Linked DNA regions of Homo sapiens. The protein of the gene in region 4 interacts with the protein of the main gene of each other region in a pairwise test. Each region holds a gene or a part of one and is shown on either strand. Other genes may lie near its edges.

The links.
Region 1: the proteins of TIAL1 (region 4) and MBNL2 interact in binary tests that used the Homo sapiens proteins (3 or more experiments, as listed by UniProt).
Region 2: the proteins of TIAL1 (region 4) and GRINA interact in binary tests that used the Homo sapiens proteins (3 or more experiments, as listed by UniProt).
Region 3: the proteins of TIAL1 (region 4) and QKI interact in binary tests that used the Homo sapiens proteins (3 or more experiments, as listed by UniProt).

Annotation. Positions count from the first base shown.
Region 1 is NC_000013.11:97,344,288-97,351,430, reverse strand, and holds part of MBNL2 (muscleblind-like protein 2), read right to left. Parts: intron 4,628-7,143; coding exon 4,364-4,627; intron 1-4,363. UniProt on the Homo sapiens protein: Mediates pre-mRNA alternative splicing regulation. Acts either as activator or repressor of splicing on specific pre-mRNA targets. Inhibits cardiac troponin-T (TNNT2) pre-mRNA exon inclusion but induces insulin receptor (IR) pre-mRNA exon inclusion in muscle.
Region 2 is NC_000008.11:143,985,219-143,993,078, forward strand, and holds the start of GRINA (protein lifeguard 1), read left to right. Parts: upstream 1-4,837; 5' UTR 4,838-4,981; exon of another isoform or gene 4,982-5,093; intron 5,094-5,981; 5' UTR 5,982-6,005; coding exon 6,006-6,384; intron 6,385-6,473; coding exon 6,474-6,586; intron 6,587-6,659; coding exon 6,660-6,860; intron 6,861-7,026; coding exon 7,027-7,155; intron 7,156-7,246; coding exon 7,247-7,390; intron 7,391-7,473; coding exon 7,474-7,623; 3' UTR 7,624-7,860. Other genes in the region: protein mono-ADP-ribosyltransferase PARP10, read right to left, coding at 1-110, 194-430, 503-757, 837-1,053. UniProt on the Homo sapiens protein: Potential apoptotic regulator.
Region 3 is NC_000006.12:163,417,718-163,424,860, forward strand, and holds part of QKI (KH domain-containing RNA-binding protein QKI), read left to right. Parts: intron 1-7,143. UniProt on the Homo sapiens protein: RNA reader protein, which recognizes and binds specific RNAs, thereby regulating RNA metabolic processes, such as pre-mRNA splicing, circular RNA (circRNA) formation, mRNA export, mRNA stability and/or translation.
Region 4 is NC_000010.11:119,593,833-119,601,730, forward strand, and holds the start of TIAL1 (nucleolysin TIAR), read right to left. Parts: upstream 3,133-7,898; 5' UTR 2,634-3,132; coding exon 2,602-2,633; intron 2,161-2,601; exon of another isoform or gene 1,732-2,160; intron 258-1,731; exon of another isoform or gene 168-257; intron 1-167. UniProt on the Homo sapiens protein: RNA-binding protein involved in alternative pre-RNA splicing and in cytoplasmic stress granules formation. Shows a preference for uridine-rich RNAs.

The DNA.
Region 1 (7,143 bases), on a different chromosome or scaffold from region 4:
CTTCAAACCTTCAAAGTACAGCAGCTGACTCTTGCTAGAAGCTAATGCAGCTGGTGAATTTAAATTGAAGCCAATGCTCATTTACCATTCTGAAAATTCTAGGGCCCTTATGAATTATGCTAAATCTACTCTGCCTATGCTCTAGAAATGAAACAACAAAGCCTGGATGACAGTATATGTATTTACAACATGGTTTACTGAATGTTTTAAGCCCACAGTTGAGACCTACTGCTCAGAAAAAAAGATTTGTTTCAAAATATTACTGCTCATTGACAATGCACCTGATCACCCAAGGGCTCCAGTGGAGATGTACAAGGAGATTAATGTTGTTTTCATGCATGCTAACACAACAGCTGTTCTGCAGCCCATGGATCAAGGAGTTATTTCAACTATCAAGTCTTATTAATCGAGAAATACATTTTGTAAGGCTGTAGCTGCCACAGATAGTGATTCCTCTGATGAAGCTGGGCAAAGTAAATTGAAAACCTGTAAAGGATTCACCATTCTAGATGCCATTAAGAATATTCATGATTCATGGAAGATCAAAATATCAACATGAACAGGAGTTTGGAAGAAGTTAATTCCAATCCTCATGGATGACTTTGAGGGGTTCAAGACTTAAATGGAAAAAGTAAGTAACTCCAGATGTAATGGAAATAGCAAGAGAACTAGAATTCTTAATAGAAGTCGAGCCTGAAGATGTGACTGAATTGCTGCAATTTCATGATAAAACTTTAATGGTTGAGGAGTCGCTTTATGGAGCAGCAAAGAAAGTAGTTTCTTGAGATGGGTTCTACTCTTGGCTAAGATGCTCTGAACATTGTTGAAATGATACCAAAGGATTTAGCAAACTATATAAACTTAGTTGATAAAGTAGCAGCAGGGTTTTAGAGGACTGTCTCCCATTTTGAAAGAAGTTCTACTCTGAGCAAAATGCTATCAAATAACATTGCAGGCTACAGAGAAATCTTTCATAAAAGGAAGAGTCAATCAATGTGGCAATGTTCATTGTGTTTTAAGAAATTGTATTTTTAAGAAATTACCACAGCCATCACAACTTTCACCAGTCACCACCCTAATCAGTCACCAGCCATCAACATCGAGGCAAGACCTTCCACCAGCAAAAAGATACGACTCACTAAAAGCTCTGACTATTGGTTAGCATCTTTTAAGCAACATTTTAAAATTAAGGTGTGTATATATTCTTCAGACATAATGTTCTTGCACATTTAATAGACCACAGTGTAGTGTAAACATAACTTTTATATGCACTGGGAAACCAAAAAATTCATGTGATTTGTTCTATTGTGATACTCGCTTCATTGCAGTGGTCTGGAACTGAACTTTTACTTGAAGGACTAATATTTCCATTATCAGGGCCTCATTCCATACCTCAGTGACCAAGGATAGCCACTGGGACCCAGGCTGAGTCAATCACAGCATCCTGTCACTGACCACAGGGACAGCCACCAAAATGACCTTTAACTTCTTCCCCTGCCCCAATACCTAATTAGAGCTGGTATAAAAGACACCATTCTCTCTCTTGTCAAAAGATGTAAGAATACATCCCTATAGAGGTCCAAAGCCTTGGTCCTGGGTCTTGTAGAGAAGCTGACCTTAGAGAATGGTGTGGCCATAGTAAGAGAAGCAGGCAGGGGAAAGAAGAGAGTGACCTGTTGGTTCTGAAGTTTCTGAACCCAGGCGTTCCTGAGTCCATCTCTACTAAAAATATAAAATTAGCTAGACATGGTGGCATGCACCTGTGGTCCCAGCTCCTCGGGAGGCTGGCGCATAAGAATCACTTGAACCTGGGAGGCGGAGGCTCCAGTGAGCCAAGATCGCACCACTGCACTCCAACCTGGGTGACTGACAGAGCAAGACTCTGTCTCAAAAAACAAATAAATAAACAAATTTTGTGGAAAAATGTGTTCTTAGTGCCCATCAATCAACACACCAATTAGGATAAGTTGGAGCTGGCCTAAAATAATGATTACAATGAAAAAAAAATTTGCTTCCTATGGGATGAGATCCTCACCAGGTTGATAGTAGAATGGATGTCGCATTGGCAAAATGTGTAAAAGATCTCATTTGTGCTCTGAAAGAATTCCTTTTTTATCAGCCTTAAGTGATCAGTTTACTCTCCTCCTCCCATTCCCAATTATAATGAGTTTCGGAAACTACTCTTTTACTAGAAGAAAAAAAGGGAGAATTTCTCTATTTTATTGACCCTCTTGTGTGGATACATACATCTCCACATATATAGGAATTCACACTCAGCAAAATAAAAAAATATTAGGTCCAATAACATATGAATGAGAAGGACGAGAGGAAAGGACACTAAAGGGACAAGAAAAGGACTCAGAGATTAAACAAAAACAAAAACAGTGATTTAGATGACGAGGCCAGTGCTCAAGGTGTATGGAAATAAGCAGCTCAAATTGGAAAGGTCTCTAGAACCACACACTCCGCACCTGGTGGTGATTACCTCAGGGCAGATGGTGCCTTTCTCGCTGTATCCCTATCACTGATCACAGGTCCATGCCTTAATAAACATTTGCGCAAACAATGTTGAGTAATTGTGAACTTGTTTGTGTGACAGCTACCCTTCCATTTTAATCAGTAATCAGTGTATGAGGTGATGGCTGAGGTGATGGCTGCTAACTAGAACAAAGTGTTTTCAAACTGTACTTTTCATCTCTGCAGTCATAGCTCTCCTTCTTGAGGGAGGACTGGCCACTGAGTCCTTCATGCCCTCTGGACCCGATTAACTATTTCTATCATGTCACTGAGGAGCATGTTATTGCTCTCAGTTACTAACTCCAAACTCCTTGAGGGCAAGGAAACCTGACTGATTTATTTATTCTACCCAGCAAGTGCCTGATGCATGGTCTCATAAAATTTTTTGAAAGAATGAATGCATAGTGCCTATCACATATTAACATAGACTTCTGATAAGCCAGAGAGCTCACATGAAAACAAATTAATTAGAAACTTCTGCAACCTAATGCAGAAGTTCTCAAGCTTTGCGATGCATTGGAATCACCTGGGAGCTTTTAAAAACTGCCACTGTCGCCAGGTATGGTAGCTCGCACCTGTAATCCCAACACATTGGGAGGTAAAGGTGTGAGAATTGCTTGATCCCAGGAGTTTTGAGACTAGCCTGGACAACATGGTGAGACCCTGTCTCTACAAAAAAAATTAGAACTTAGATGGGCATGTTCCCAGCTACTCAGGAGGCTGAGGTGGGAGGATCACTTGAGCCCAGGAGTTTAAAGCTACAGTGACCCATGATCATTCCACTGCACTCCAGCCTGGGTGACAGAGACCTTGTCTTAAAAAAAAAAAAAAAAAAAAAATCCCACTGCCCAGACCACACCAGACCAACTAAATAAGAAAATAAGAAACTTCAGGGAAAGGGACAGATGTCAGGTCAGACCCTTCAGGTTGTTCCAAAATGTAGCCAAGTTTGATAAGCAATGTCTAGGCAGGTGCTTCTCAAATGTTAATGTGCATACAAAACACCTGGGAGATGTTTTACAACTTAAATTCTGATTCCCTGAGGTCTGGGGTGAGGCTGAGGATTCTGGAGGCTCCACAGGCTTCTAGGTGATCCTAATAATGGTGCATCTGGTCTCTAAGGGACAGTTAGGCTCTCCGAGATTCTGAGCAGGCTCCCAGGCGATGATAATGATGATGTACTGCTGGTCTCTAATGACAGTAGGGTGACTCAGGGAAGCAAGCCTAGGTCACAGGTCTTTTTTTCTTTCTGCACCAGCCAGGATGGCTCCACTTTCATCTGTTTCATGCATTGCTATTCTGCATAAAACCTCATTGAGATGGGGAATCTGACCAGCATTGCCCTTGTAATAAGTGAAAGAAGAGGAGAAAATGGGAGTAGCGAAAAGCCAAATCACTCTCTGGGCTTCTCTTAGGCCACAGATGTCCTCCGTGGCTGCTCCAAGGAGCTGGGTGCCTCCTCGTGCTCAGGTGCAGAAATGCACCTTTCTTTCCCCTCTCCGAAGCGGTGCCCACCTTCATGTTCATTACAAGGCCCCTGAGCCTCTCTTAAAAAGACCCTAAGTGAGCACACTCAATCTCCGCCACCCTAGGAGGGGGAACGGAGCTCAGGGACCCCAGGACTTTCCCTGCACCTGAGGGATTTACTTATTGTGCTGAAGGGGGGCAGGAGGGGAAAACAAAACAAAACAAAAAGGGGGAAAACAACAGCAAAACTTAGGCAGCGGAGCAGCAGGAATAGCAGCCTTCCATGTTTCCCGAGTGTTTGGAAGAACATCCAAGTCCCAGCCCGGAGCGGCCTCCGCAGAGGCGCCGGGGTGCAGGGGCGGCGGGCGGCCGCACTTACCATGACTGTGGCCGCGGCCGCGGCTGCCTGGGCGGCCACCGCAGCTTGGTTGGCTTGGTGCTGCGCAGCTTTGATTTTGGCCTGCAAGTGTGCAGGAGGGTGAAAATATTTGCATTTCTCCCTCATGCAACGCCCCTTTATGTAATCCATACAAACGGTTACGGTGTTGTCACTTGTGTCGATCATGGTGCTGTCTGCGGGGTGTGCAAAGCGGCAGTCGGTCTCTCCCCGGGCACAGTTTCCTCGCTGGAACTCCCTGCATACCTAAGACAGGGAAGAAGAGCCGCGCTGCAGAGGCAAGCCTGAGCCCAGGCGCCCCTGCGGCCCCGGCCACCGCGGGAGGAGCGGAGGCTGCCTCGCTTTCAATGGTGGCTCATGTACCACTGACAAGAAAAGATTGATTATGCGGAGCCCAGGTAACCACAATCTCTGACACAGTCATTTGAGTTTTGTTTTACCGCCTTTTCTAGGGTGAAAATCTATATTGAGAAAATAATACGAAATCTGCAGTTCAGCTAAAATAACAAAGGAAAAGCAACAAGGCCTCCATTGTCCCTGGGTAGCATATTATGCAGCTGTCTATCGATCTGTCTGTCTGTCTATCCATCCATCCATATATCTATCATCTATCTATTTATCCATGCATCCATTCCTTCATCTATCATCTACCATCAATCAATCTATCCAATCATCTATCCACCTGTTCATTCATCCATCATCTATTATCTATCATCTATCAATCTATCCCTCTATTATCTATTATCCATCTATCTATCCATCCACCCATCCATCTATCCATCCATCCATCCATCCATCCATCCATCTATTATCTGTTAATCTATCATTATTTTTAATGGTAAAAACTGCAATTACTTTTGCACCAACCTAATATTATCTATCATCTATCTACCTACCTACCATCTATCTATCCGTCCATCCAGCCAGCCATTCATTCATCCATCTATCATCTATCCATCCAGCCATCCATCATCTATCATCTACTGATCTATCTAAAATCTATCAATTAATTAATCATCTATCTAATCTAGTTACCTACCTATCTATATACCTGCTTACCTACCTATAATCTATCTATTTAATCTGTCAATCACCTATAATCTATCTACCTCTCTCTATATCTTCAATCACCTACTTGTATGACAATTCTGACAATGCTATAGGTTTTTTTTTGTGTGTGTGGAGGGATAATTTCACCTATATCAAGCTACCAGGTCATAGCTGTACAAAAAGAATCAGAGAAAATGACGACAAACTTGTTCCTCCTCTCTCTAAGGGGGTGGGGTGGGGTGGGGTGGGGGGAATCTGAACACTCCTGTTTCCCACTCCTTCTCTCCTGCTCTACAAAGATAACATAATCATAAATCAGAAGAACAATATCTAAGACACCAAAATTTTCATTTTTAAGGTCACTATACTATTTTTGACAGCACAGAAAAGAAAAAAAAGACAAAAGGAGAGAAATACGGCAAGAGATATAGAGAAAGAAAAATGGAGGGAAATAGTTTATTTTAAAAATTCTTTAATGCTAAATTATCCTGAAATCTCAAGTAACTAGGATTCTCTATCCCCTGAGAATTCTGGTGGATCAAGATTTTACTGTATGAAAAAATATTTCTTTAGAATTTGAAGAGTATTCTTAATTATGCCCTGCATATAGATAACATAAAATAGCATAAATAACATATGCATGTTGCTTATATAATTCTTCTCTGCTCATAAATATTAGCAGGAAATAATTATGAGTAGAATCGTAAGTTATTTATTTTTAGGCTCCAATTCCAAAGTGGATATGTAAATGATCATCACGCTGATCATTAGTGATGTTATATGAAGGGCCCCTGACATGAAATTCAAGTATTGTGGAAGTCAGACATACTTAGGAAATACTGTTTCACTGACCAGTGACCAGGCCAGCTTGAAGGTAGATAGCATAAATCACCAGATTGTTAATTGTTTCCTCCTACTTTGGATATTAGCCAACATTCTAACTTTAGTTCATAAAATGCGCAAAATAAATCACTAAGATGTTCCCACGGATTCTGAGCAAGCCTTCCTCCATCAATGGAATGACTTCTGTCTGATAGCATCATAGGTGTGGACCAGCCATCAGGCTCCTACCAAGGTGCTTTGTGTGCAGCTGACTTCATTCCTGGTTTGAAATGAACCAAAAGCCGCTCTGCTAAAATCATTGTGATTCATTTTTACATGTCTTTGTCTACCAGCCCTGTTGAGAAGGACAATTTGTTCCCAATTCCACTGATTTAATTTGTTTTCTAAAGTACAGTCACATACTGAACACAAAAGCTCCGTGGGTCCAGCAGGTGGAGCCCAAAACACTTTTCCAGTCCTGTGAAAGGTCTATTCAGTAATTGACAAGGGTAGGCTGGATCTTTTCAAAATAGTAACAATTAGAGTTTCCATTCTCTTCATCTGGGCATCCAGATTGAAACTAAGTGAAAAAATAAATATCTTCTAAAATATTTGCAGTTTGAAATTCTGAGTTTTAAAACTTGCACAGGTTATTAGGCAGCCACATTTTATTGCCTTCAAGGTTTATTGGGTTAATATTTAAACAAATGCACATTGAAAGAACATTCTCTAATAATCCCACTAACAGAAAGCACTGTGTACGTCCTAACCAGATGCATCACCTAACACCTTTAATCAGTAATGGAATTAAAGGAGCTCTCTGAAAAATCTATGAGAATCTTTATACACCCTTATGAAATGCTGTAGTGAATATCATAGGGATATAGCAG
Region 2 (7,860 bases), on a different chromosome or scaffold from region 4:
TCCACTGGTGTTCTCAGCCAGCTCCTCGGGCTCCAGGATGTCGTAGTGGGGGACAAGGCTCAGCTCTGAGCCCTGCAACCGGTGCTCCTGCTGCAACACTCGTTCTGCCACTTGGAGGAAGGGAAAGGACAGAAAGCCTGTCAGATTTCTGCAGGAGAGGGACGGTCGGCTGGGTCTGCCCAGCCCCACTCACCTTGCCACTGCTGGAAGGAGGCAACAGTGCCCAGGGGCCCGGGTAGGCGTTGCAGGTCCTCCAGGGGCCCCCCACCACTGCGGCGCTCATTCTCCAGGTACAACTCCAGCAACAGCAGGTCCACAGAGGCACCATCCCCCACCACACGCACCGCTCGGGCCTGGGGAACCCGGGCCAGGGACACCAAGGTCCCCTCCAGGCCCAGATTCTGGGCCTGCTCCTCCAGGACACGGACATCTGTGGGGTATGTGCAGGTCAGCTCAGGGAATCCCCCCTAGCCAGCACCTCAACCCCAACCCTGCCTCTCACCTGCCTCAGAAAGGGGCTTGGGCAACTGGACCAGAGCCCGGTCTGGCCGGGGGCTGGCCAAGGCACAGCAAGGCTGTACTGGGAGCCCCGAGGCCCGCAGCAAGGCCTGGACATGCTGCTCCAAGCGCTGGGGCGTGGTGCCAGGGGGCAGTCCTTGGAGCAGCAGGCGTGCAGGGGCTCGTGGTGGAGCTGGCCGCAGGCTCAGCTGGGCACCATGTAGTTCGTGATCTGCCTGGGCCAAGACCCTCTCGGCGTCTGTGGGCAGGGGCGGGGCAGGATGTCAGGCATTAGAATATCAGGGCACCCAGGCTGTCCCTTCAGCCAGCCCTCTCACCTGCAGGCTCTCTGAAGGTGAGGACGCCCCCACAGCCCAGTCTCTGCCAGCTCAACACAGGTCCCCCTCCAGAGCGTCGGCGGTTTTCAAAGTAGAGAGTGAGCAGCTCGTCGGGCACGGCAGGGGGCAGTCCACGGACCTCCACTGCCACCCCTGCCTCTGCCTCCGCCATTGCAACCCTGGGACGGGGCATCAGGTGGGTAGGGAAACAGCCCATTCCACCCCTCCTGCCCCTCCCCAGGCCCCTCCAAGGTGTGTCCTCAATGCTCCCCCATTATGGGTGGCCCCACATACAGCACTTACATTCCCCGTGGCCGCTAGGCAGCCTCAGGCCATGAGCTCAGCCAGGACTCCTGTGCCTGCCCCTCAGCAAGCCTAACCCTGCTGGGAGCAGGAAAACAAAAGTGAAACTGAAAGACGGAAGGAGGGAGGGAGCAGCTGGGCCCTGGGCGCTGAGGCCTGGGTACTGGGGCTCAGATGCTTCCTCTCCTGCTGCAGCCTCAACCCCCAGCTGACCAGGAGGTATTGGCCAGGCTGGACCCCTCAGGACCCTCCAGCCAACCCAGCCCAGCCCACCGGCCCTACCTGGCCCACTCCAGCCCCTGGTTGGCAGGGTAGACAGGAGTGTCCCCTGGTGGCCCTCCACTCCCCTGGCCTCCATGGCCTGAAAATGGCCAATCACCCGCCCCACTAAACCCACCAAGGGGCCTGAGTCACTGCCCCTCACTCAGGATCTCCAAGCCTCTGTGTCCATGACACCCTCTGCACACAAAGTGCTGGGTCTCCAGGCCCGCCCCCGGCCAAGGCTGGCCTTCAACGCCCCCAGCAACCTTCTCAACCCTGCTCCTGGTCCCTCACACCTGCCAGGTGCTGAGCATGGGCGGTTCCCCACCCTTGGTCTCCAAGAATGTGCATTGCAGCACAGCCTTCCTCCCGCCTCAGGTCTTGCCTGCCCATTCCTGCAGCTTTCTGTCCTGCCTGCACCTCCCCATCTCACACCATCATTGGCATCGTCACAAGTAACCTCAGAAGGTGACAAGGTAATGGCTCCACTGCATTCCTTGCTGCCGCTAATCCTCACCACAGAAAGGGAAACGGAGGTGCAGACAGGCCCATAGCAGCACCAGGCCTCAAACCTGGGCGGTGCCTTCAGAGTCCACACTCCCACTCGCCACAGATCTCCCACATCACCCAAGCTCCGTTTGCTTCCAGCCTTTCAAAGAGCTGTGGCCACTACCACTCTCCATCTCCTACTTCCCACTCACCCCTCAGCCCACCAAAACCCAGCCCCACCCCTGCTGTTCCTCCCTCCAGGGAGCTGAGGACCCTGGCCAGCCTGCACTCCTAGCCCTGCACATGCCACACCTCTGCTGCCCCGACCCTGGTCCCAGCCTCCAGCATCTCTCGCTAGGTAGCTAGGCTAACCTCTTAACTAGTCTCTGTCTGCCACTCCCATGGTGGGTCCTCAACAGAGGTGTCAGGGTGAGCCTTGTAAAATGACACCAGCAGCTGCTACAGCTCCCAGCATCAGCAACAGTAGAAACCAAAGTCCTGGGGGCCGGGCGCAGTGGCTCATGCCTGTAATCCCAGCACTTTGGGAGACTGAGGCAGGTGGATCACGAGGTCAGGAGTTTGAGATCAGCCTGGCCAACATGGTAAAACCCTGTCTCTACTAAAAATATAAAAATTAGCCGGGCATGGTGGCAGGTGCCTATAATCTCAGCTACTCAGGAGGCTGAGTCAGGAGAATAGCTTGAACCTGGGAGGTGGAGGTTGCAGTGAGCTGAGATCGTGCCACTGCACTCCAACCAAGGTGATAGAGTGAGACTCTGTCTAAAAAAAAAACAAAAACCCAAAGTCCTTTTGAGGACCTGCCCCCTGCCCAGCTGCACCTGACCAGACCTCAGTCCCTTCTCTGGCCCCATGCCCCCTGCACACCCTGATGCTCAGAGGGCTCCAGGCTCTCAGCTCTTCCTGCAGAGCTACAGGCCACTCCTGCCTCAGTAGCCTGGGACTGGCCCTTCCCTCTGCTTGGCCCTACCTTCCCCACAAACCCCCATGGCCACCCCTCTGGCATGATCTCCCTTACTCTGCCTTTTTTTTTTTTTTTTCTGAGACGGAGTTTCGCCCTTTCACCCAGGCTGGAGTGAAGTGCCGTGATCTCGGCTCACTGCAACGTCCACCCACTGGGTTCAAGGGATTCTCCTGCCTAAGCCTCCCAAGTAGCTGGGATTACAGGCACGCACCACCATGCCCAGCTAATTTTTGTATTTTTAGCAGAGACAGGGTTTCACCCTATTGGGCAGACTGGTCTCAAACTCCTGACCTCAGATGATCCACCTGCCTCAGCCTCCCAAAGTGCTGGGATTACTGGTGCCAGCCACCATACCCAGCTATTTTATTTTTATTTACTTATTTATTTATTTTTTGAGACAGAGTCACACTCTGTTACGCAGGCTGGAGTGCGGTGGCACGATCTCAGCTCACTGTAACCTCTGCCTCCCAGGTTCAAGCCATTCTCCTGCCTCAGCCCCCCCAATAGCTGGGATTACAGGTGCACACCACCACGCCCAGCTAATTTTTTTTTGTATTTTTAGTAGAGACGGGGTTTCACCGTGTTAGCCAGGATGGTCTCCATCTCCTGACCTTGTGATCCACCCGCCTCGGCCTCCCAAAGTGCTGGGATTACAGGCGTAAGCCACCGCGCCCAGCAAGCATTTTATTTTTCTTAAAGGTCTCTCAAATTTTGTGAGCTTCTGCTTCTACAAAGGTAGAAGTTACCTTCTACAAGGGTAAATCCATCCCTGCTTTTTCCACGTTTTCTCTAATGGAACTCATCACAGGTTATCCATTACGCCGACCCTGGCTGCAGAGGGCCTGCCACAGGCACCACTCACACCACAAGCAGACTGGTACAGTTTCGGGAATTTCTGTGGACTGGTTGTCCAGCTGGGGGTAACTTGAAACCAGCCCCGGTGGAGTATTCACACCACGCGCATGTGCAAAACACGCACCCCAGGCTTCCCCTCACTAGGTCCGGCTGCTAAACACTGCGCCAGCGCACCATAGGTGCAGGACTCAGAGCGGCCTGGGAGAGGCCGGCCCTCCAAGGGCGGGAGGGCAGGTGGGGTCTGGGCCCCGGGTGGGAAGGCTGGCAGCAGGATGTACCCTGCCTGTGTCAGTCACTGCTCCCCCAAGAGGACTTGGGAGCTAAGCAGGGAGGTGGCCTGGCCTCCAGTCCTGCTGCATCCCCAAGCCTCAGCCCCTCGCAGCTTGTGAGGACGTTAGGCAGACAAGCGAGCGTTCAGGGTCTCTAGTGTGAAAACAAGACATCGTATTTGTTAGTACAAAGGGTGACTGTGGTCAAGAATAATTGTACATTTTAAAACAACTCCAAGAGTATAACTGGATTGTTTGTAACACGAAGGACAAAATGCCTGAGCTGATGGATACCCCATTTACCTTGATGTGATTATTATCCATGGCATGCCTGTATCAAAACATCCCATGTAGCCCGTAAATATACACCTACTATGTATCCACAAGAATTAAAAAAATAAAAAAGGGTCTCTAGTAGCAGGCCTGGCAGAGTTTGGGCTGACAGAGCAAATGGGGCAATTAAACCACGAGGCCTCGATTTGGGAACTAAAGGATTAGGCTTCTTGATTTGGGAGAGATCTGGATGAAAAGAAGTGAACGTCGGGTTTTAAGGCCGAGAACGGACGGTCAGTCCCGGGCAGCTTCAGCAAATCCCGCATTTAGGAATAAATTTCTTAACTACCGAACGGCCAGTCAAATTGGCCAGACCAGACTTCTGCCTCCAGGGGTCTTCAGCGCCCACCGCCCGACCCCACCCCTCGGCAGACAGTGAGAGGCGGGCCTCTGGCCGGAGCGAAGAGGAACACGCAAGGCGGCGCAGCGGGAGGGGTCCGCGGAAGCCCCGCCCACCTGCCCCTCCCACCCCGAAGCTCGCCCGGCCCCGCCCCCTGCCCCGCCCCGTCACAAGGCCCCGCTGCGTCTTCCGAGCCGCAGGCGCAGGCCCAGCTGAGCGGCCGCCGAGCGGGTGCGGGTGCGGGCGCATCGGCCATCACCGCGCGGCCGCGCAGCGGACACCGTGCGTACCGGCCTGCGGCGCCCGGCCACCGGTGAGTCCCCGGCCCGAGCCCAGGAGCGCCTCTGACCCGCTGCGCCGCGCGGCCTGCCGCCCCCGCCCCCGCCCCCACGCGGATCTTGCGCATCCGAGCGTGGCCGCCTCGGGTCAGTAAGTTGGTCCGGCCGGGGCGCGCGGCAGCTCGCGGCCAGAGGTGGCGGCGGTGGTGGGGGCGGGGAGCCGCGGCGGCCTGGAGCCGGAGGGAGGGGGCGGCGCGCTGCGGCGACTGCTGGACCCGTGACCCTGTGCGCCCCCGGCCCGCGGAGGGCCCATCCGCTCTCGGTGCCAGTGCCACGGCCGCAGCCCCTACCCGCCTCGCCCCACGCCCGCTTTGTTCCCCGCACGCCCCGTGGTCGCTTCCATCCCCCACACACCCCCGCACCCCGCTGTTCCCGGCGTACCCCACTGGCAGGCACCGGCAGCCGATCCAGGCCCGATCCCCCCACCCCGGAGCCAGGGGCCGTTGGGCCCTGTTGTTGGGCTCGCGGGGGTGGGGGGGCTCGGGCCTTTGTTGGTCACAGATGGCCCGGGGATTTCCTGGGATAGAAATAGCCGCCGGCTCCGGCCCCTTAAAGCTGCTTAAGGGGCGGGATGCGGAGGGGAGGGTCCGGGCACACCCCACACGTCCCCGGCCGAGACCCCAGCCTCCGCGCTGAGCTCCCACCCGGGAGACGCCGGCAGCGGCGCAGGCCTCCGGTTGCTTGTGAGAAACGACCCAAGCCCCAAATCCCGAGGCTGGCGGTCGTCCCCTCGCCCGGCCCCTCCCCCACCCTAAAGGCGGCCTAGAGCCCTGGGAAGGCCCCACGGCGCCGCCCGTCCGGTCCTCACGCGCTTCTCCGGGCCCAGGCTCCGGGGCTCCCCACAGCCCGGGGCAAAGGTCACGGTCTTCCCTTGCTTCCCCCTGGGTTCCCAGAAGCAGGTGGAGTTGCGCAGGGCTGGGTCCCGACGCTGTCGTCAAGCCAACTGTTCCACTGTTCCTTGTCTGTCTTCTCTAGGGGCGGACCGCGGAACCCGAGGCCATGTCCCATGAAAAGAGTTTTTTGGTGTCTGGGGACAACTATCCTCCCCCCAACCCTGGATATCCGGGGGGGCCCCAGCCACCCATGCCCCCCTATGCTCAGCCTCCCTACCCTGGGGCCCCTTACCCACAGCCCCCTTTCCAGCCCTCCCCCTACGGTCAGCCAGGGTACCCCCATGGCCCCAGCCCCTACCCCCAAGGGGGCTACCCACAGGGTCCCTACCCCCAAGGGGGCTACCCACAGGGCCCCTACCCACAAGAGGGCTACCCACAGGGCCCCTACCCCCAAGGGGGCTACCCCCAGGGGCCATATCCCCAGAGCCCCTTCCCCCCCAACCCCTATGGACAGCCACAGGTCTTCCCAGGACAAGACCCTGACTGTGAGTCTCAGGAAGGGAGGGGTGGGGTGGCCGGGAGGGCAGGGGGAGGTGCTTGTGAGTGGCGCTGACCCAGCCTGTCTGCTTCTCAGCACCCCAGCATGGAAACTACCAGGAGGAGGGTCCCCCATCCTACTATGACAACCAGGACTTCCCTGCCACCAACTGGGATGACAAGAGCATCCGACAGGCCTTCATCCGCAAGGTGGGTAGGGGCATCTCCAAGGCGGTGGGGGCTGTGGCTCCCAGCGGATGACTCTGAGCGGCTCCTTCCCCAGGTGTTCCTAGTGCTGACCTTGCAGCTGTCGGTGACCCTGTCCACGGTGTCTGTGTTCACTTTTGTTGCGGAGGTGAAGGGCTTTGTCCGGGAGAATGTCTGGACCTACTATGTCTCCTATGCTGTCTTCTTCATCTCTCTCATCGTCCTCAGCTGTTGTGGGGACTTCCGGCGAAAGCACCCCTGGAACCTTGTTGCACTGGTAACCCCCAAACCTGAGCCTCTGTGCCTGGGTCCGGCCATGCAGTCCCACACGCCCACTCTTCCGGGCCTGGTCACCGTGGTTCTCCTTGTGCTCATGAGGCAGGGGCCGGCAGGGGTGGCATGGGGGCACACACCCAAGGTCAGCCTGTGTCTCCCAACTGCAGTCGGTCCTGACCGCCAGCCTGTCGTACATGGTGGGGATGATCGCCAGCTTCTACAACACCGAGGCAGTCATCATGGCCGTGGGCATCACCACAGCCGTCTGCTTCACCGTCGTCATCTTCTCCATGCAGGTGAGGGGCCTCCCGTGGCTGGGCTGTGGCCGCAGGGGCTGAGCAGCTTTCCCAGGCCCAGCCCCATGGCCCGTTCCTCTCCCACCTGCAGACCCGCTACGACTTCACCTCATGCATGGGCGTGCTCCTGGTGAGCATGGTGGTGCTCTTCATCTTCGCCATTCTCTGCATCTTCATCCGGAACCGCATCCTGGAGATCGTGTACGCCTCACTGGGCGCTCTGCTCTTCACCTGCGTGAGTGAGGGGTGACCTTGGCCGGGGGCGGGATGCTGGGCAGGCAGGCTTGTCCCTCAACACCACTGTGCTGTCACCTCCAGTTCCTCGCAGTGGACACCCAGCTGCTACTGGGGAACAAGCAGCTGTCCCTGAGCCCAGAAGAGTATGTGTTTGCTGCGCTGAACCTGTACACAGACATCATCAACATCTTCCTGTACATCCTCACCATCATTGGCCGCGCCAAGGAGTAGCCGAGCTCCAGCTCGCTGTGCCCGCTCAGGTGGCACGGCTGGCCTGGACCCTGCCCCTGGCACGGCAGTGCCAGCTGTACTTCCCCTCTCTCTTGTCCCCAGGCACAGCCTAGGGAAAAGGATGCCTCTCTCCAACCCTCCTGTATGTACACTGCAGATACTTCCATTTGGACCCGCTGTGGCCACAGCATGGCCCCTTTAGTCCTCCCGCCCCCGCCAAGGGGCACCAAGGCCACG
Region 3 (7,143 bases), on a different chromosome or scaffold from region 4:
TTTACTCCATCTCTTGTCTTGCTATCTTTAGTTTTAGCCTTGTCAATTCCCCAGTGTAAAGATTGCTTCTGTGTGGCATATAGTATGTTTAAAATGGGCAATATAATGACGAGGAAGTTTGATTGTTTTTTATCAGACCAGTACAAACATGCAGGAAAAAGGGCTATTCCTTAGTGTGGAATAAGCGGCTTCCTGTAATTGTTAGCCTTGTTATAAACTTAATTTGACTTAAGAAAAATATTGGTTTCTGAAGTCCATCACATTTTTTTTTCTGGATGATTTAATTGTGAAATTTGGCATCTTGTGCTTTACCCCTTTGTGGTTTGTCATTGTCCAAAACAAATTGATCATGACTTTTGTTTCTGGTTAGGCATTACTTTTTTTTTTTTGCCTATAATGCTTGGCTGAAAAATTACTTTTAAATTTAGATAAAATTTAGTAAAAATTTTACTTTAGTGATTGGTTTGATGAAGTTAACATCGTGCTTAGAGTAGATGTATTTTCTGATAATTAGGAATTTTAAATGAGATTTTAAATTTTTTATTTTAAAATATTTTTCAAAGAATAAGCTTTTTAAAAATATGCTTGTCAGCCTAAGAATTTCCATTTGGCTAGTTACAAATTTGAGGATTAAGTGTGCTGGTTTTCCCAGTTGATGAAGACTTGGATGTTTTAGAATGAGTATTTTAATTCCTTGCCAAGTTAACCTTTAGTCTGTATCTTGACTGTGGACAGTCCTTTTGTTTTACTGCTTGTTTTTGTTTTGTTTTGTTTTTTGCTGTTGCTGGTGGTGGGGGTGTGTGTGCCAGCTCTTCCACTGAAGTATCTTCAACACGGTTGTTTTTTAAAGTTGTGAATACATTTTAGGTTGGGCCCATCATAAAATATAAAGGACATAAACTTGAGTTTGAAACCTTTTATTGAAGATAGAGATGATTATAGGATTACACATAAAACCTAGGTCTTAAACTGCTCTACCTTTAGAGAGACGTTTTCAACTGAACCCTTAGAGCAGTTAATATATGGTTTTTAAAAAAACAGACTTTTCTTGTCATGAGAATGAAACAACAGTAGTTGAATGCAAATTGTTATAATAAAGTTTTGTAATTTAGAATCGAGAAGGTGAAGAGTACGGTCTATTAGACTTAACAATCCTGTATTAGGGGAAAATGGAGAACTAGTATTTTAAAAGCTGATTTTGAGTTTTCAATTTTTTAGGTGGAGGTGGGCTTAAAGCTGCTGATAGGGAAATAAAAAATGTGTAATGAGGAAGAACAGTCAATCTTTTTATCGTGGATATCAGAAAAATTAGTGTGTGGCTCAGAAAAAGAGAGCAGATGGATTAGAATGCCGTATTACTGATTTGAAAATATATTTTCATTTTCTGATGGTCTTTTTGTGTTTACAGTAAACTTTCTGTCTGACCTCAGTTTAGTTTATACCCTGCCTGCTCCCTCTCCTTTAAATATATGAGTAAAAATATTTCGTTAAAACTTGCTTAAATAGTTGCTATTTTTTCATGTTAATGTTTATTTTCACTTCTTCTGCCTCTGTTATTGGATGTATCATAAGGTTTTCTTACCATAATTTTTTTTTTTCCTGAGAATTCATTTACAAAAGCCTTGACTTAAGAATTATATGGTGGTTGGTATTGAGAGGACTCTTGCTATACAGATTTCTTACAAAAAGGTTTTCTTTTTGTCTGAAGAAGCAATTACTGTTGTCAGTAATCATCATCTGTAACAAACAGATTTTAAGGTGAAATAATCTGTTCTTTAGAAACTAAGATATTGCTTTTGTACACAGTCCTTGAATTAGTTGTAGCAAGAAGGAAGCTACTATTTATAATCACTTCTTTCCATTATCTTTTCTCACCCAGGAGGTGTCAGCAGCTATATATTGGCAGTCACGGAAAAGATCAGTTGTATCATTATGGGGCATTTATTAAACATTCATTCTGTACTTTTAAAGCTAAATTCCCCTGTAGGTGGAACGTGATTCCTTTGGAAACTGTATCCAGTTTACATGTTTTGTAGTAAAAGTTGTATCCGACTGTAACACAGTTGAGTTGATAGAAATAGGTCTCTTTGCTAGTCACATTTACGAGTGTATTTTGGGATGAACACTTTTTCTTAAATGACTGAGAATGTCAAGTTAAATCAAGTTAATTTGACTTCTTAAATGCTTTATGCACATTATATTTCTGTTAATGCTTCACTAGTCACTGTCGCTGTCCTGGAGCTGATTGAAATTGGTCAGTTTCCCATAAGAGCAAATGGTTTTTGGTTTCCTTTTTCAGGGAAATAGATTTCTGTGATGAAAGAAGTGAAGTATAATAAAACCCTCATGCTTTGACCTGGCCTTCACCGAAGCATGATTCAGATTCTTTTTTTGAGGCCAATATACTTAGACATGTAAGGGCTTTTCTTTTCTTTTCTTTTTTTTTTTTTTTTTTGGTGGTTTTTTTCTTTCCTTTTTTTTTTTTATGGTTTGGTTTGGTTTTTATATCAAGGGAATTACACCAGTGTGATCATAGGAGCAACTTTTTATAAACTGGAACTACAGTTTAATTTACTTGAGAAATTCGGTGTAGCTAATACATTTGTTTGATTTATTTGTTTGATGTTGCAGTTGTAAGCAAAACTTGCCCTTCTCTGTTGGAGATGGAAAATGCTGTGACATTGTTGGTTTTTGTTTGTTGATAACTTAAAAGGCAGCCCACTGAGCAACTTTCTGCTATTGGTATGTCAGCTGTTATGAACATATCCAAGGTTCTATTTTAAGGCCAAGGGATGGGGAGTGGTGAGTGGGCCTATGTTAGGAGGTCACACAGATATATACCAGCTTTTTATTTACATGATCAACGGGACTTCATTTTTTTCTCCAGTCCCTCCTGTGTTTGACATTAAGACAGCTTAATGTGAATTTTAAGTGCAATAATGTGTTGTTTACCCTTAATGATAACTTTTAGGGAATATTTATACCCCTTTAAAAAAGTTTTGGGCCCACAATAGCTAGATTATTTCGTGTTTTACAGTTATATTTTTTACTTAACAGAAAATCACAACTAACAATAAACTTTTATGGTGAATATAGTTTGTTATCTTAGTGGGACTGTTAAGAAATTTGTTTATAACCCCAGTCTGTGTTAGGTACTACCTTCTATGGAGTGATCATTATAGTTAGCATTGGAATATTATTACCTGTCTGCCCTCTTAAAATTACTTTCTTGAAGGTGCCTACCTTAGAGCCTGGCATACACTTCTCAGATGTTTGTTGAATTAAACATGTTGACATCTTACCTCCTTTTTTGATTTCTAGTTTCTCAAAGATAGGGTATGTGCACATGGTTTAAAAAAAAATGAAAATCTGAAAGTGACATTAGAAATATTGTCTAATAATTTTAAGAAATGAAGCAGTTGTGTGATTGTTGATAGTTTTGTGCCCTTAGAGGAAAAGGCACTTATATGTTTTCTTAAAAACAACTTAAAAACATGTCATGTTATTTGTAGTACTTGCTGCCAAGGTGCTTAATTTTACTTTACTGTCATTGTTGGGAAGGAGATTTAGGAAGATAAAATTGCTTTACTTAAATAGTATAGTTTCTTGTCAGTCCTTATACCAAAGGGTATCAATTCATAAGCAGAGAAAAACTACCAGTGCTCATCTCAGCTCTTGGAAAATTTTGGCATTTATGGAATTATATAGGTAAACTCCCCACCCCGTTAGTTACCCTTTTAAAAGTCCCCACATATATAGTTCTTGTACTCCATGCAGGGCACAATAGATAGGAATGATTTCTTGTCCCTAAGTGCTGCTTTGGTGTGTTCAGGATAACGACTGTATTTGATTGAGTGATTTTAGTTTAAAAGAAAGCTGAGTATAATCATATGTGGCTGATTGTCATTTAACACAAATAGCTATGTTTTTAAACACAGGTGTGTCTTTTAATTTTAAACAGTGCCATTACTTAGAAAACTGATAAATTGAAGTTTTCACTTAGCTGAAACTAAGCTCTTTTATTTCTTTTTTCTTTTTTTTTTTTCAGTTGGAGTCTCGCTCTGTCACCCAGGCTGGAATGCAGTGGCGTGCTCTCGGCTCACTGCAACCTCTGCCTCCTGGGTTCAAACAGTTCTCCTCCCTCAGCCTCCCGAGTAGCTGGGATTACAGGCGCCCGCCACCACGCCCGGCTAATTTTTGTATTTTTAGTAGAGACGGGGTTTCACCATGTTGGCCAGGCTGATCTTGAACTCTTGACCCCATGATCTGACCGCCTCGGCTCTTGACCCCATGATCTGACCGCCTCGGCCTCCCAAAGTGCTGGGATTACAGGCGTGAGCCACCAAGCTCTAAACTGTTTATTACTGTGCTTTAGCAGTAACAGTGTTTGAAAATCTGTGATGAATTTTTAAAAAATATATTGCAGAAGTGATTTATCTAGAATTCTTACAATTAGCAAGAAAAGGACTGCACTTAATGTTTTCGTCTTCAGTTTCTTGATGCGGAAACTCTAGTTTGAAAATCCGGCAATCCTATCAAGTCTAACAAAATAAATTATGTTCATAAAGTTGCTTCATGTATTAGTCTAATATTTTTGTAGAACTAAATTTTGAGGCTGGGGAAATGAATCGATTGTAAGATTTATATCACATTATTTATTATAAGCAGAATGTGTCATATTCTGCTTAGCAGATAAGCAGATATTGAAGTATCGGAAAGAACATAATTAGTCGGATGTGGTGGTGTGTGCCTGTAGTCCCAGCTACTTGGGACGCTAAGGAGCGAGGATTGCTTGAGCCCAGGAGGTCAAGGCTGCAGTGTTATGATCATGCTACTGCGCTCCACCTTGGGCAACAGTGAGACCCTGTCTTAAAAAATAAAACATCAAAATGCAGTTACATCCATAAAGTGGCTCCACATAATGGTCACAATGTAAGTAAAGGGCATGTGTGTGCAGGCATTTATATCTGTAAGTGAAGACATGCAGTGAATGTGAGCTGGGCTTTGTGAGTACTGGGGCTGGTTAAGTTCCAGCTGAGAAAGGTTGGCCCCGGGATTGAATAAGTAGCTGGCCTTAAGTAAGCACCTCGCTTTTGCTTTAGTGCAGGAGAGGTCATTGTAGAGACTGGGCCTGATCTCCTGGTCAGTAGCAAATCATTGGGGAGCCCTTGGTTTTTAAGCTGATTTTATAGTTTGAAATATATAGGAAAAAACAAACAAAAAATAATACATTTTAAGAGTAGAATTAGGGAAATGCATAGTAAGAAAACAAACATGCAATTTTAAAATTTGAAACCGAGCCTGGTGAGGTGGCTCATGCCTGTAATCCCAGCACTTTGGGAGGCCGAGGCAGGTGGATCACGAGGTCAAGATTTCGAGACTAGCCTGGCCAATATGGTGAAACCCTGTCTCTGCTAAAAATTAGCCGGGCATGGTAGAGTGTGCCTACAGTGCCAGCTACTTGGGAGGCTGAAGCAGAAGAATCGCTTGAACCTGGTAGGCGGCGGTTGCAGGGAGAGGAGATTGCGCCACTGCACTCCAGCCTGGGTGACAGAGCGAGATTCCATCTCAAAAACAAATAAAATTTGGAACCTTTTTTGTAAACTCTTCAATGTCATAGTTTTACAGGGTCTCAAACTTACTTTGCAGATTATATCAGAGAATTGTGTTTTAGAGCTGCAGGGGACCTGAGAGTTGGGAGTATATGTTCATTTCATAGGTGCAAAGACAAGTGGGCAGCAGAGCTAGAGCAAGACACTCACTTCTGCCCTCTGTTCCATTTTGTGGCGTGCCTCTCCACAAGGGGAACTGGAGGGAAAAACCTGGAATATTTCCATATGCTAAAAATCTGCTGCTGTTGCCTCAAGTTGTGAAGGTAAAGAAGACAAACCAAATGATTTTTTGCTAATTCTGTGATATGCTGGTTTTGAACAAATGATGGTCAGATTCTTAGAACTAGAATTTATTTTTAACGATAACTTTCTAATTAAGAGGCTAAAAGTGAGAAAGCCATTTTTAGAGGATTTCAGCTCATTCACTTCTTTGTAAGCAAAGGCTAGAGCCTCAGTTTTTTGAATAATGTAAAAATTGTTGCTGCTATTATTTTTACTACTCAAGAGGAAACATTTTTGGCTGGGTGATTTAATAGAGAAGTATGCTATTGCTAAGTGATTCAAGTTAGGAATGTATACTTGTATCAGTTTTAGATCAGCCTGGGGTAAACAGCCCAATGATATATCAGGTAGATAACTGAAGAGTGACACCCAGGAGGTGGATGGTTATGAATTGAATGGAAACGGTGCTGCACCAGATAGCCACCAGGTAGCTACTATATCGTATTCCTGATGCCAGCATCTGGGGGATGATTGCTCATTTCAAATAATTCAAACAAATTAAATGTAAGCCACAGTTCTTTGCTATGTTACAGCAATTATATCCCTTTGATACAGTTGTTACATGGCAGGTGAATACATTTTTTTAAGAAAAAAAAATTTCAAACTGGGATCAAAAAAATTACCCTGAAACCGCATCTAATTGTCTATTGTCGCTGATTCCACCGTGGTTGCAGTGATGCCATTATCATGAGAGTATTCAAGTTTTAACTCTGTATGTGTGTGCCTGCACATGCGTGAGCCAGCATAAAGATGAAATGAATTTATGTTTTTGTGCATATGCTAATGAGACCCTGTGATGAAGTGGTAAGCATTCTTGTACTATAGACCTGGGATCTAATCATGACTCCGCAATTAACTGGTTTGGTGATCTTGGGTGAGATAACTAATGTCTCTGAACCTCAAGCTTCTTCATCTGTGAATGAAATTATCAACTGCCCTGCCAACCTCAAATCCAAATACTCTGAAGTTGATGGGTATTCAGAAGAGCCTCTCATACTATAAAGTAGCAGCATCACTGCTTGGTTTTTAATTTTTTTTTTTTTTTTAATTTTGTGTGAGTCTTTCTCTGTTGCCAAAGCACTGGATCTTGGCTCACTGCAACCTCTGTCTCCCAGGTTCAAGTGATTCTCCTGCCTCAGCCTCCCGAGTAGCTGGGATTACAGGCGTGCACCTCCACACCCGGCTAATTGCTGTATTTTAGTAGAGACAGGGTTTCACCATGTTAGCCAGGCTGGTCTCCAACTCCTGA
Region 4 (7,898 bases):
CTCAAGATTTTACATTTGAAGGTTTTAAAAAATATATAAAAGTCAACAGACTGCACCACATGTGACAGTAATGTCTGCCTACAATCTTAGTTCAACCAGGACTTTTAAAAAAGAACTTAATACTAATTTAATGAAAGAAGTATAATCACTGTAGAAATTCTGAGTACCTCTTATGTTCCAGGCAGTGAACTAAGTGCTGTGGGGGTAAGACCTAGGAAGATGTAGTAGTCCTTCTCTTAAAAAAAAAAAAAGGCCCTATGGAAAAGGGTGGGAGAAGGAAAAAGGAAGACAGAATAGTAAACACGTACTGACATACAAAACAACAGAGTTAAGATGTTTATTTATTCATATGAACATGTCACAGTTTTAGAGAACTGTAAACATAGACAACTTAACTGTTTCAAAGAAAGAACAAGAGATTAGAGAAGGTAGAGGAAGGAAATAAGTGACAAAGAAGTTAGCTTATTATTCCCCTGGAGAAACTCTGATAGGGATGAAGGCAAGGCAGATGCAAAGATAAATAAAAGACATCAAAAAAGCACATTCTTTAGCACTACAAAACCAGAGATTCCTCTTGGTAAGGAACAGATACAGTAAATGAGACCCCTGCCATGAGTATTTATCAATCATTCAGTGTGTGATGATACTTCAGATTTTTAGATACAATGTAACTTTTATCTTTGTTAAATACATGTTAGCTAGTCTTTAAGCCTAGCTTTCCCAGATGCTTATATCAAAGTACACATTGTAACTCAACACCAAGTCTTGGCTTCAACAGATGTTGAAGGATAAAATTTTTTTTTTAATTGTTTAGACGAACTCTCGCTCTGTCACCAGTCTGGAGTGCAGTGGTGCAATCTCGGCTCACTGCAACCTCTGCCTCCTGGGTTCAAGTGATTCTCCTGCCTCAGCCTCCCAAGTAGCAGGGACTACAGGCGCGCGCCACCACGCCCAGCTAATTTTTGTGTTTTTTGTAGAGACGGAGTTTCACCGTGTTGGCCAGGAAGGTCTCGATCTCTTGACCTCGTGATCCGCCCACCTCGGCCTCCCAAAGTGCTGGGATTACAGGCGTGAGCCACTGCGCCCGGCCTGAAGGACAAATTTCAAGTGTGTCCCAATTCTTTCTTCTAGGGAGAGAAGGCAGAAATGGAAGACAACACAAAACACAAAGACGTTCTATTAAGCAGGCGTTTCATTGAAGCATTGGATGTGCTTCAGTAGGCCTCAGATTCTCAAAACGGGACGGATACTTCAGTGAGACGTTAGAGAACACATTTATTCCTGTACAAGGCCACACCAAAAAAATCTCTATCAATACTGAACATCTATCTTCTTTACTGAGCATCCTTTCTTTGGTAGGAGTGAAGAGATGTGAAGCTAGTCAAACTTCTCGAGTGCCCCTCCACCTTCATCTATTCCCTAAAAAGCAATTTCCCCATCAGAGAGCAGAGCCAAGTGGACTATGATCCTATCAATACCAGGAGAGGCAAGAGAAACAAAGCAGCGATCTGACTCCTTGGTACTCAAGGTAGGAGTGCTAGACCTGGAGAGGCCGGGAAATTAGGGTGCCCAATTTAAACATTTAATTAAAAAGTATTCAGACTTAAAAAAAAAAAAAAAGATGCAGAGAAAAGGAGTGCCACACTATTCAGAAAGGAATGCAAATGCTGAGTCATCACTCTTCATTGGAAAGGAAGGAAACCAGAATTAAGTGGTTGGAAGATGGAATTCATTCATTAGATTGAGCTTCAGGTAAAAAGCAACAGCAAGACAGGAGAAAAAGCGTTCAGAAGACACACATCAAATAGCGGATGAAGACATAATTTTAGCCAACTCTGAAGCTTTCGACGCACAAACAGATTAGGAAGAGGCAACACCTAGAGAGCAAAAGGAGTTTAACAACTGGTTGTCAGTTTAGCGTAGGGAGCGCTCAAAGTAAACTTCTTTATCCAAGAAGGGAAAGATGCTCGGGCAGCAAAAGGTATCCCTTATGTACTTCAAAAGTAGCGGGCGCTAGGCGGGTGTTTCTGACAGCGTGGGCGGGGGCACGTGGGGCATAAAGAGAGAAGGGGCTTGAGTGGTGAAAGAGTGTCCTGCTTCCTCCGAGAGCTTAGCTGGGGAGAAGAGCTGGGAGCGACTCGAGCTGAGGACGTGGAAGGGGTGAGTGCTAATTCCTCAGGGCCCGCGGGGCCCACCCCCGGGCCCACCCCCAATCCTACCCCCGCCAGGCCCTTCCCCCGTGGGCGCCGGCAGCTCCAGGCCCAGCCCAGGGCGTCCAACGCGGAGGGGGTGCAGGAGTTCTCCTGGGCCTGACAGCCTCAGCCGTGCAGAAACCCGGCCTAGGGAGGGCATGCAAAGAAGGACGCCAGAGAAAAAGGTCGAGACAAGCCCCAGACCCCAGGAAGTGACTGTTTGGGGGAAGGGAGGATTTCCTTCCCAAGGAAAAGGGGACAGATGAGGAATGCACTTCGCGTCCACGCCGCCCTGGTCAGGGAGCCGCCTAGAGTCCCGGCTTCGGCCCAGTCTCTCCTGCTCCCTCCCTTAGCGTCCCGCGGTGCCCGGGCCTCTTGGCGCCTGGCACCCCTCGTCTCGGGTACTCACAGAGTCCGGGGCTGCCCGTCGTCTTCCATCATGGTGGGTGCGACGGAGCGATCCCGGGACAAGGGGGAGGGCAGGGTTGGGGAGGGGAGGGGGTGGGGAGGAAGGGGAGGGGGGCTCTGGGCACCGGCTGGGGACAGAGGAAAAGGCACCGAACCCTGCTCTCGGGCTCTCTCCCCCCAGCCCGCTCCGGACACTGCGCTCCAACCAGGAGGAGCAGGAGGAGGAGGAGGATGAACAAAATGGCCGCCGCCACCAGCCAGGCAGGAAACAGGGCAGAGCGCAGGCGCGACCCGCCAGGTCACCGCTCAGGCCAGCCGCGACAGCCTGCAAGGGGGACGACCGAGGGGAGAGAAAAAAGGGCCGCCGAGGAAACCCTGGGACCCGCTCACGACGGATCACGTCGTCGCTGTGGGCCTCTGGCCGGCCGAAGCCCAGCCAGCTCCGGGAGAGATCGGGCAAAAAGAGAAACGTCGTGAAGCCGAAGTCTCTGGGAATTGTGGTCCTGGAAATGAGAGAGGGAAGCACTTCTGCAGAGGACTTCTGGAACCTGTGGTTAAGAGGAGCCGCCGGCGCCCACCCGCGCTGGGACGTGAAGAGGAGACTTCTGGGTAGTGTAGTCATACGTGAGGACGTGCGACGACCAGGAAGTCGGCGGGCTGGGAGGTAAAGGGAAGAATAAAAGCGACATTGAAAGGCGGGGAGACCAAGTGGGGAAAAGCGCTGTCTGGGAAAGCGAACTACAAGTCCCAGAGTTCCTCGCGCCGGGGGCTGTCCTCGGACTGCTCCAGGCATTGTAAGGCTCTTCTGTTGGCCCAGTCTGAGCTGCTGCTCCGCCTTCGTCCAGCCCGAGAGCGGTTTCTTCAACTGTGGCTCAGGCAGCACTCTCCCTCCGCGTGGTGTCCGAGCCAGCAGGGCCGTCCGGCCCTCCTGTGTTCATCAGAACGGCTGGCTCGCGTTAGTCAACCGCCGCTTCGCGCGACAGTCAGAAGAGAGGCTGTGCTGGCGGGGACCCGGAGGGGTTGGGGTGTTTTGGGGACTCGATTTCCCACAAATAGGTATTTCTAGCCTATTTGTTAAATACAAGTAGGTGGCCTGCTTGTAAATTGCTTTACAAGTTTCAGAGGTTTCCCTATCAAATGTCTCATCGGATAGTGGGGTAAGAAGAGGAGCCCTATTATAATGACTTGCCCAACTCCCCCCGTATTCTTGGAGTTAAAAGAAAAAAAAATCCTTGGGCAGAGACGTGCACAAACATAAAGTTGCGTTTACAGACATCAGTCATGTGGGCTAGAAACGCAGTTTTGCATGAAGATAGGGGAAGCCATGTTCATACTAGCTCTGCATCCCTGTAGAATTTGTCTTCTCACCCCCCACAACAGTTCCTGGTGTGCTTTTTTCCTCCTCTAAGTACCTTCAGGAGAAAGTACTTGGTCTTGTAGCTTAGTGAAGAGTGGCGATGAAGAAAGATCTTTCAGCCCATTGCCAGAACTTAACTGCCCCGGTTAGTAATGGCTTAAGAGTTGCTTCTGCCGACATGTACTAAGTGCATGTCGACCTCTGCAAGTGGCGGTGCGTATGCGTGCCACTGAACATTAATCTTGAAAGCAGAATCAACCATGCAGCAAGCCCTTATGTTGTCCATTTTCAGGGGAGGAAATTTCAACCTGAAAGACTTCATAGAGACACGGCAAAGGAGTTGAGCCCCATAAGAGTCCGTAGGAACAACAAAAGGCTCAGACGCCAGGACCCATGGCTAAAATGTATGGGCTGGGGATGCGGGCGGGAGCGGGGGGAAGGGAACTAAAGCTAGAGAGGACCTTGTAGAACCGTGTTGTCAAGAATCTATTTCATGCTGAGGAATTTGAGCTTTCTCTTCCAGGCAGTGAGGAGCCACTCAAAGGTTTTGTCTATGTTTTTAATTGGACCTAGGTGTAGAACTGGATTTAATTATAATCCAATTCATTAACCCATGCCTGGCCCGCTGTGATAGTTTCCTGTTGATGCTGTAACAAATTACTGCAAATTTAGATACTTAAAACAACACGAATTTATTTTCTTACAATTCTGGAAGTCAGAAGTCCAAAATCAGTTACACTGGGCTAAAATCAAGGTGTCGGCAGGGCTGGTTCCTTGCCTTTTCCAGCTTCTAGAGGCTGCCTGCATTCCTTGGCTCTTGGCCCCATCCTCCATCTTCAAGAAAAGAAGCATAGTATCTTCTTTCTTCTCTGCCTCTGTACGTACATCGTGATTCTCCTGCCACCCCTTTTCATTTACGAGAACCTTTTGTGATTACTTTGGGCGAAGATTATCTCAAGATTCTTAATCACATCTGCAAAGTCCCTTTTAGCATAACATTCCCAAATTCTGGGAATTAGGACATAGAAATCTTTGGTGGACCATTATTCAGTTTACCGCACCCACCTTTATTACTTTAGTTTTGATTATAGCCACAAACCCACCACACTAAAAAGTTATAATGACACGAGTTTATATCTGTATCTATGCTATACCTCCTACACACAATAACACACACCCCTGCCTTCGCTTGGGGTAACCATCTTTCTGAATCCTGTCTTTACTATTTATTGCTTTCCTTCTACAAGGTTTTATTCCACATGTACATAGTCCTAAAAATCATATGTATATACATGTATATTTGAGTTTTTTTTTAACTTAGTAAAAAGAATATGCCCACTACAAACTAGAATGGTTAAAATGGGCATGTTTACTGGCAGTGAAATTATTAAGGTTAAAATCCAAAACACTAACACCACCAAGTGCTGGTGAGTATGAAAAGCAACAGGAACTATCATTCTTTGCTGGTAGGACTGCAAAATGTTATAGCCCCTTTGGAGGACAGCTTGTCAGTTCCTTACAAAACTAAACATAATGCCTAGGTACTTACCCAAATGAGCTGAAAACATGTTTACATAAAAACCTGCACACAAATGTTTACAGCAGCTTTGTTCATAATCATCCCAAATTGGAAGCAACTAAGATGTCCTTGATATAAGTGAATGGATAAACTGTCGTACAAGGTGGTACATCCATGCAAAGAAATATTGTTCAGTGATTTTTTTAAAAAGAGCTATTGATATGGTTTGGCTCTGTATCCCCACCCAATCTGATCTTGAATTGTACTCCCATAATTCCCACGTGTTGTGGGAGGGACCTGGTGGGAGATAATTTGAATCCTGGGGGCAGTTTCCCCCAGACTGTTCTTGTGGTAGTGAATAAGTCTCACGAGATCTGATGGTTTTATCAGGGGTTTCCGCTTTTGCATCATCCTCATTTTCTCTTGCTGCCACCATGATTCTGAGGCCTTCCCAGCCATGTGGAACTCTAAGTCCAATTAAACCTCTTTTTCTTCCCAGTCTGGGGTATGTCTTTATCAGCAGTGTGAAAACAGACTAATACAGCTCTCAAGCTACAAAAAGACATGGAGGAATGTTAAATGTACAGCACCAAGAGAAGCCCAGTGGAAAAGGCTGTAAACGCTACAACTTTAACTATATGACACTCTGGAAAGGGCAAAACTCAGTGGTTCCCTGGGCATCAGGGAAGGAGAGAGGGATGAATAGGTGGAACACAGGTCATTTTTACTGGTAGTGAAATTATTCAGTATGATACTCTCATAGTGGATACATGACCTTATGCATTTGTCAAAACCCATAGAACTGTGCCACACAAAGTGAGTCCTAATGTAAACTATGGACTTCAGTTAATCATAATGTATCAATAGTTGTTCCTCAGTTGTACATTTGTTGGAATTGATGAACCAATATTGATACATTGTGATTAACTGAAGTTTATATATCAATTATGAATTGATATACTTGTTAACACTAATATAAAACAGTAATAACAGGGGAAACTATGTTTGTAATGGGAGAGAGGGCACATGGGAACTCTGTACTTCATGCACAATTTTTCTATAAACCTAATACTGCTCTCAAAAGTCTATTACAAAGGAAAAAATTATGTCCTTGTAATCTTTTGAGACTGCTTTTCACTTAATTAACACACATAAGATTCAGCCATATTTTATGGCTATCATTCATTCAGACTATTATATGATATTCCAGTGTATAAATATACTACATTTGTCTGATTTCTCATTAATGGATATTTGGGTTGCTTCCAGGTTTTTATACTGTGAATAATGCTGCTATGAACATTCTTTTTTTTTTTTTTAACCTTTCTTTATTTTTATTTTTTTTTTTGTTTTTGAGATGGAGTCTTGCTCTGTCATCCATCTAGAGTGCAGTGGTGCAATCTCGGCTCACTGCAACCTCCGCCTCCCGCATTCAAGCGATTCTCCTGCCTCAGCCTCCTGAGTAGCTGAGACTACAGGTGCCCGCCACCACTCCTGGCTAATTTTTGTATTTTTAGTAAAGACGAGGTTTCACCATGTTGCCCAGGGTGGTCTTGAACTCCTGACCTCAGGTGATCCACCCGCCTTGGCCTCCCAAAGTGCTGGGATTACAGGTGTGAGCCACCACGCCCAGCCAGCTATGAACATTCTTGTGTCTCCTGTGATAGATGTGGAAGAGCCTTTCACCCCTCAGCCATTAGACCACCAGGGAGTGCAAGAGCTTTTCTTTGATCTATTTGGATCTATACCTAAAAGTGAAATTGTCAGGTAACAGGGTATATGAACACTCCATTTTGGTGGGTAACATCAAACCTTTTTCCCAAAGTGAATACACAAATTTGTACTCCCATCAGCATCGTTTAAGAGACTCTGTGAGCGGATCCACATTTTCTTCAGTACTTAGTTTTGTAGTCTGACAATCAAAGTATTAGCTCAATGTGGTCTTAATTTTTACTTAATCAATAAAGTTGAACATCTCCTCATATTCTGTTAACCATAAGTTTCCTCTTCTGAAGCATGCCCATTGATATCTTTTGCCTATTTTTCTATTATGTTATATGTGCTTTTCTCAATTTTTTAGGAATTTTTGATGCTAATTCTTTGTTATATATGTATATTACAAATATCTTCTCCTAGTTTGTAACTTGTCCCTCTCTTTTTAAAATGCTTTTGATGCCAGGCATGGTGGCTCACACCTGTAATCCCAGCAGTTTGGGAGGCTGAGGCAGGTGGATCACCTGAGGTCAGGAGTTCGAGACCAGCCTGGCCAATATGGTGAAACCTCGTCTCTACAAAAATGAGCCAGGAGTGGTGGCATGTGCCTGTAATCCCAGCTACTTGGGTGGCTGAGGTAGGAGAATCGCTTGAACCTGGGAGGCAGAGGTTGCAGTGAGCCAACATCGCTCCACTGCACTCCAGCCTG